2 linked regions of the Homo sapiens genome follow. The protein of the gene in region 1 purifies or fractionates together with the protein of each later gene. This does not show direct contact. Each region holds a gene or a part of one and is shown in the gene's direction. Other genes may lie near its edges.

Region 1 (3,500 bases):
TGCGCCCGAGAGCCCCGCCTCCCCCAAGCACCAATGTGTGGGGCCAGTGCCACCCTCATCCCCCTGACAGTTTGCAGAAGAGAGTGCTGCTAATGCCTATGGACTTGGGCGTGTCACCCTTGTCCTCCACCTCCTTTGCGACTGTCCCCCGTGAGAGAAGATCTCCCTAAGGCCATCTGGAGTTTGTGTCTGAATGGAGAAAGTTGCACTGGCCGGGTGAGGGGAGGGAGCAGGTGTTGGCTTCACTCGGAACTGACTTCCACAGCCTGCGCTCCAGGCCAGGCCCCAGTGGATGGGTTGTCAGAGGGAGAGAAGTGGCGCTGTTCAGTCAGCCAACTCCGTGGACTCGCCGTGGGGCCCAGGTCAGGTTGGGCCTGGAGAGCAGGTTCCAGACTCCGAGATGGGCAGAGGTTGCCCAGGAGTGGGAGTCGTAGATGGTGGCGGCCTGGTGCCATGGGTGGTGTGTGTGGGCTACACCGAGCAGCATCCCTCAGTGATGTGAGATGTGTGTGGGGTCCCGTGGCAGGTTGGGACCGTGTCTTCTGGGTCAGGCATGTGGCTGTGGGGCCACTGTCTTCCCCACAGCCGCTGTGATTAGTGTCCTACATAGGGCCCCCACGCTGTGCCCAGGGCAGGGCACTTACCAGACTGTTCTGGGGGCTGTGCTGCTGGGGACATTGGTTGGCCCCTGGGATCACCACTGCCTCCCACACAGTTAAACCAGGGCCTGGGGACAGAAGCTGGAGAGCCTGCAGTTGTGTTGGTGGGATTCTGGGTAAATGCCCGGCTTTGGTGATGCCGACGAGCACCCTCCCAGGTGTAGGGACCTTTGTGCCTCCAGGGCCTGAGGGCCTTGGCACTGCACCAGCCACTGGTGAGCAGGAGGGCACTAGTGTGGGCTGGAGGGTGCCCCGCCCCTCCTGTCCAGTCCAGGAGGCAGCCTGCCCCCGGGGCACAGGGCTGGCCAGGGGCCTATCTAGGATTAGGGACTGTGGCCCAGCCTCAAGAGGAAAGGCCTTGGTGGGGATCTGTGGCCACCAGGACCTGATGGCAGGAAAGGAGCATCGCCTGACATTTGGGGGACAACTTGAGCGGTGACCAACAGAAAGCATGGGATGGACAGCAGGGGGCCTTGGCATCTGCAGGGAACTGTGGTGGCAGCAGCGCCACCTGACCCGGGGAGCAGTGGAGGTGCTTCTGCAGCCGCATCGCAGGTGTTTACGGATGTGCATTTCATCCTGGCAGCAGTCCCACCAAGTGGATTGCAGGTGCTGTTATCAACCCATTTTACAGATGGGAAAACTCAGATTTAAGGCCTTGCCCAAGGTCCTATGGCCAGTGCGTCATAGGAGTGGAATTCACACCCAGACAGAGCCCGGGCCCCCCAGCTGCCTTTTGAGGTGAAGCCAAGGGAGAGAAGGTGTAGCATCCCGGCCTGGCCCCTGCCGTCCTGGCGGAACTGAGCAGATGTGGGGCTTCAGCCTGCAGGAGGGTTGCTGCGGGCACAGGGGAGTAGTGAGCCTTGAGGGACATCTCAGCATTAAGGTTCAAAGGGGAAGCCTCTAAAGACGCCACTCATGCTAGGGAGCAGCTGTGCCTGGTGCTGATGCCTGTGGAGGGAGGTGGGGGGATCGTTCCTGTGACAGCCCCAGCCCCAGCCCTGAGCCTTTCATTCATTCCCTTGCACCCAGCCTGCTGGGGTGGTCTCCCTCTCCATCAGCTCCTGTCACCTGCCGCTGGATGGGGGGGGTCTTAGTGTTCCCAGTTCAGGACATGGGCCGTGAAGGTTCTTGTGGCCATACTCTGGAAGCTTCTCCCTCCCTAGACAGAGCTGACTTTGAGCCTCTGATCGGCCTCTCCTTTTTATCACTGAGCCCTTGTGGTCCCTCTTCCGGAAGCCTAGCTGCATGTTGCTAGGTCAGAGTCCTTAGGCCTAAACGTGAGGTGCAGGGGAGAGGGACCGTCAGTCCCAGGGTCTCCTCTCCTCTGCTGTCCCCTGGGTTCTGGAGGAAGCAGGTGTGTTGGGTACCCTGGGCTGCTGTCGCATGGTTCCTGCCCCAGTGCCCTCCAGCTGTTGAGAAACATGCACCAGCCCCTCCTAGTCAGCCTCCTGTTGCCCCGGCTTGGGTCTGATGAGTTGAGCTGTGATGAGGCCTGACTTAGATCTGGAAAACGGCTTTGGATCTGAGAGCCAGCAAACGCCCTCGGGGCCTTGTCCCTGGAGCCCTGTTGGCTGAACACCCTCACTCAAGGATGTTCCCGTGGACTTCGACAGAGCCTGGCCTGGGGCAGGCTGGTCTCCCTCTGGGACCCTTCCCAGGGGCCCTGCTACTTCCTGGGAGCTCCCCTTAGAGTGCAGCCCGCTCAGACTCCCCAGGGACTTGGATGTCCTTCCCCTCCTGCACTCGGTGTCAATGGTGGCCTGTCACCATGCCATATGCTGGAGTGTGGCCCACCCTTGTCCCAGTTGTTGGACAAGTGGCCATGCCAGCTCCAGAGCTGGCGGGGGGTGCCCTCTCTACAGATCCCACTGGGATGGGGGCTCCCTGCCTACCTCCCCAAGTGAGAGGATTCCCTGCTGCGATCAGGATCAAGGGAGAGGTGATGGGAGGAGCCTCCCAGCTCTGGGCAGCTGAGACTTCTGTGGGCAAGGCCGCCCTTGGCCTGGGAGTCCAGTTCTTTGAGGCTTATTATCCAGTAAATGCTCGCTGAGTCTTGGCTGTTTCCTGAGGTACCGATGCACCCCGCTACAAAATCATAGTTGTTCCTAGGCTTGAACCTTCCCCGTTTGGAGGGGTCTCTAAACCCAAGACCTGCATCAGAGCCTCAGGGTGAGATCCTTTCGAGCTCTCTGCCAGCCTCCCTATCCTGTAGGGTTGGGGTATAGGGCTGGGGTGCAGCAGCCTTCCCAGACCTGGGGAGTGTGGCTGCCAGTCGGGGAAGGGTGGCCACTGATGGGGACGGGGCTTTTCTTTGCTGCTCTGTGCACGGAGTGGCTGTGGGTGGCAGTTCGAGGTAGACTCAACTTAGTGACAAGAAACCTTTTTATTTCAAGCTTACGTTTACTATGATAGTAAACCGATAAAGTATCATGAAATGTGAAAGATGCAGTAACCCGTTTTCTGACCCTTTTCTATGATGCCTGTTTTTTCACAGTGAAGCCGGGCCTGTGTGGGTCTGTGTTTTCCTGCGGCTCTAGGTCCCCATATGGAATGTATGTGGGACGAGGCAGTGCCAAGGGCATGCAGCCTGGCAGGGGCCAGCGTGCGACATGAGGGGCTACCCGAGGCCTACTGGGACCTCCTGGGCTCCGACTTTCCCTCTAGGGCAGCACTCAGTGGTCCAGGCTTATCCAGCTAGGTGACGGCTGAAATGGGCAGGGGACCCAGGTGGGGTGAGGAGGAGATTTCCACACCAGCTGTGGGAGCTGGAACCTTCCAGATGCTGAGACTGTCGGGCAGACACCAGGAGGGTCCATGAAGGTGCCTTAGAGCATCTGG
Region 2 (3,500 bases), on another chromosome or scaffold:
CAGACAGCAGCAGCACGGCAAAGGTGGGAGATCTTGTTTCTTCCAGATGAAGAAACAACGTGATAAAACAACATGGCAACATTGCCTGATCTCTGGGCCTTGCAGTCAAAGAGATAATAGTCTAAGGCACTTCTCTCATCTTTGCTTGTACCTAACTGATGAATAGCTACATCCTTTGGTGGCAAAACGACATATGAAGTATAAAATAGGGGAGTAGTAAGTACATATGAGCATTTTAAATAATGTATATGAAGTATATACTAAAATGCCCCAAACTTGAATCATTCACCTCGGGGACAGGTGAGAGTTGAGAAAGGGCTTTGTTGCTAATTTCAGAGCTTTTAATATAGTCTCCTTGGTCGTAATGGAGTTATCAGATGCTTTAGAAAATTGAAATCTGTTCACTCTTTCACCTAGATTAAGTAAATCCTGGTTTTGTATCTATTTCATATTAACCAAGCATTCATTTAATATCTTCTTCTGTCATATTTAGGGACTTTCTTGGGCCCTCCTTTCCTTTGCCATCTTGCCTGTTGGTATGATGACCTAACCAGGATCAATGGATAGAACCAATTTCAATTTGTTCTGACTTTCTCATTTTTCATCTCCAGAGGAAACGGCCCCTGAGAACGCCATTGACCTTGGGGAAGAGAGCTTTGATATATTAACACATTTCCTAGAAAATGTCATTTTCCTTTTCTTTGCTCCTGACCGTTTGTCCCTTGTAATTTGCTTTTACTTACTGAAGATTATATTCCATTTGTCGGTTACGGTACCCTGTCAACCAGCAGACCAAGCCTACCCAAGATCTACTACAATTTTCTAGATTGTGGGTGGGCTTACAAAGACTCTGTCCAGGAATATGTGATTATTTTGTCTTCACACAAAAGATAGCTTCCTTAAGCAACAGTGAATGTTTCTCTCTTAGTTCCTGGTGCTGAATTCACCTCTTTGTGCTGACTGTGAAGTTTCTCCCAAAATCAACCTGGATTCCTCATTCCAAGGAACAGACGCTCAGGCTGCATTATGGCTTTTCATTTGCTATGTTTGCATACCACACATATTCAGTAAAACTGCCTCTTCTGGCCTGTTTCCATTTCTGAGTGCTACATTATTGCAGGATTTAGAAAAGTGTCTAAAAAATACACATCAGCTCTCAGTTATGTCTGTCAAACCTAACGGATGGTTTGGCTGTGTCCCCACCCAAATCTCATCTTGAATTATAGCTCCCATAATTCCCACATGTTGTGGGAGGGACCTGGTGGGAGATAATTGAATCATGGGGGTGGTTTCCCCCATACCATTCTCGTGGTAGTGAATAAGTCTCACGAGATCTGATGGGTTTATAAGAGGAAACCCCTTTCGCTTGGTTCTCATTCTCTCTTGTCTACTGCCATATAAGACGTGCCTTTCACCTTCCACTATGATTGTGAGGCCTCCCCAGCCACGTGGAACTGTGAGTGCATTAAACCTCTGTTTCTTTATAAATTACCCAGTCTTGGATACATCTTTATTAGCAGTGTGAGAACAGACTAATACACTAACCATTATAATGGGCAAAGTCATATAAGCCAAGAGGAATTGTATTAGTTTTCTTATTGTTGCTGGAACAAATTACCCCAAACTTAGTGTTTAAAACAATACAAATTTATTTTCTTATAGTTCAGGGGTCAGAAGTCCAAAATTAGCCTTACTGGGCTAAAGTCAAGGTATCAGCAGGACTAATTCCTTCTGATGGCTTTGAGGGGAAAATCCTTTTCCTTCTGTTCTCACATCTCTTACTGCCCACTCTGACCCCCTGCCTCCGTCTTCTAAGGCAATTATGTTAGCCCCATCCAGATAATCCAAGATAAACCTCCCCATCTCAAGACCCTTAGCTTAATCCCATCTGCAAAGTCTCTGTCATATAAGATAACAGTCACAGGTTCTGGGGATGAGGAAATTGACATCTTTGGGGATCATTGTTCAGCTGACCACAGGACCGAGACCTCCCTATTCAGTGACAGTTTTCTGTGGCCTTTCCTCTTGAGGTCAGGCTGCTTTGGTGGGGGAGGGATGTTTGTGGGTGGGCTTGCCCATGCCCTTCAGAGACCCCATGCCTGACTCCGTGCCTCCTGCACCTGCAGTAGCAGCCAGATTTCAGCTGCCTCCCCAGGGCAGTCAGAGGTGTCACAGTGGTGCCCAAGGGCCATGCCACTGTGCCCAAGATGTTTGCCAACTACCCTTCCTCAACTCTGTCTTCTTTCCTTTTTAGCATTGTGTTAGTGCCGGGAGGCCACTGTGTCAGCAAGCTGAGAGGGAAACTGAAGCAAGATGTCGGGCCGGAGTGGGAAGAAGAAAATGTCCAAGCTGTCCCGTTCAGCTAGGGCAGGTGTCATCTTTCCAGTGGGGAGGCTGATGCGTTATCTGAAGAAAGGGACGTTCAAGTACCGGATCAGCGTGGGCGCCCCTGTCTACATGGCGGCAGTCATTGAGTACCTGGCAGGTAATGAGGACACGCAAAGGAGGCTGCCTGCTCCCAGGTCCCCACCCTCCCCTGGGTCCCCCTCGCAGGCTGGGGAGGGATGCTCCAAATTGCCTTTTGGCTGGCTCAAGGCTACTGTGGGTGGTGACAGGGTTGCAACTGGCCTGCTTGGCTAAAATCAACTTCTGCAGACTTTAGGGGAGAGAAGAGGGTATAGGAAGGACAGGTGATCAGCATGGAAGGCGGAGAACCCACAATCAAGTAAGTGGCCCTCCTAGACCAGTCCTGCAAAAGATATGTCTTGCTTTAAGCGAATGCAATATATAAATATCTAAGCTCCTGAAGAAAATAAACTGCAGGGAGAATGGGGGATTTGATATTCATTTTGTAAAAGGGAGTCTTTTTACATCAAATTGCTCATTAAACATTAGTTTTCCTGGTATATTTAAACTGGGACTCAGGGTCCATAAATAACATTTATCGCATCATTAAAAGCATCTTTCAGGTGCTGGCATGAAGCCGATGTAATGTTCTAATTTTGCTCTCCTTCACTGAGGTGATTCTCGTCTAATAGGGGTGCACAGAAAATAGTTTCCCATATTTGTTGTTAAAGTTAATTTTTTTACTGAAAGATGAGATTTTGCTGTGTGTGTTCTTTATCTTAGTAACTTTCTCTTTAGCTTTTTTGTTGTTGTTCTCTTATGTCATAGTTAAATAGAAACCAAACTTTACAATATCAGGGGTGCTTTTCAGAAGTATTTACAAATAAAATATATAAATATATATGTACAATAAGTATGATTTAGTCCCTTGTTGGGTAATAGCCACGAGCAACAATGTCTCTGACTTTGCCCAAGGTTAACAAATTCCCTAGACACCAAGGTTAAGTTCCTTGGAAATTCTGCCAGGTTAAAAAGCAAACCTCCCCAGATGGTCTAACACTGGGGAGGCAAGCCTCACTGCATGAAATCCTCTGGGCTGTGGCAGGGCTGGTCCTCTCTTCTGTCCCCAGATTCCTCTTTTCTGCTGGTTTTTC

What was found. Proteins that work in one complex are often made in the same cells at the same time.
Region 2: the proteins of ZNF316 (region 1) and MACROH2A2 purify together in Homo sapiens (co-immunoprecipitation; one large-scale study listed by IntAct). This does not show direct contact.

The regions. Positions count from the first base shown.
Region 1 is NC_000007.14:6,647,318-6,650,817, forward strand, and holds part of ZNF316 (zinc finger protein 316), read left to right. Parts: intron 1-3,500. UniProt on the Homo sapiens protein: May be involved in transcriptional regulation.
Region 2 is NC_000010.11:70,073,346-70,076,845, forward strand, and holds part of MACROH2A2 (core histone macro-H2A.2), read left to right. Parts: intron 1-2,254; 5' UTR 2,255-2,313; coding exon 2,314-2,485; intron 2,486-3,500. UniProt on the Homo sapiens protein: Variant histone H2A which replaces conventional H2A in a subset of nucleosomes where it represses transcription. Nucleosomes wrap and compact DNA into chromatin, limiting DNA accessibility to the cellular machineries which require DNA as a template.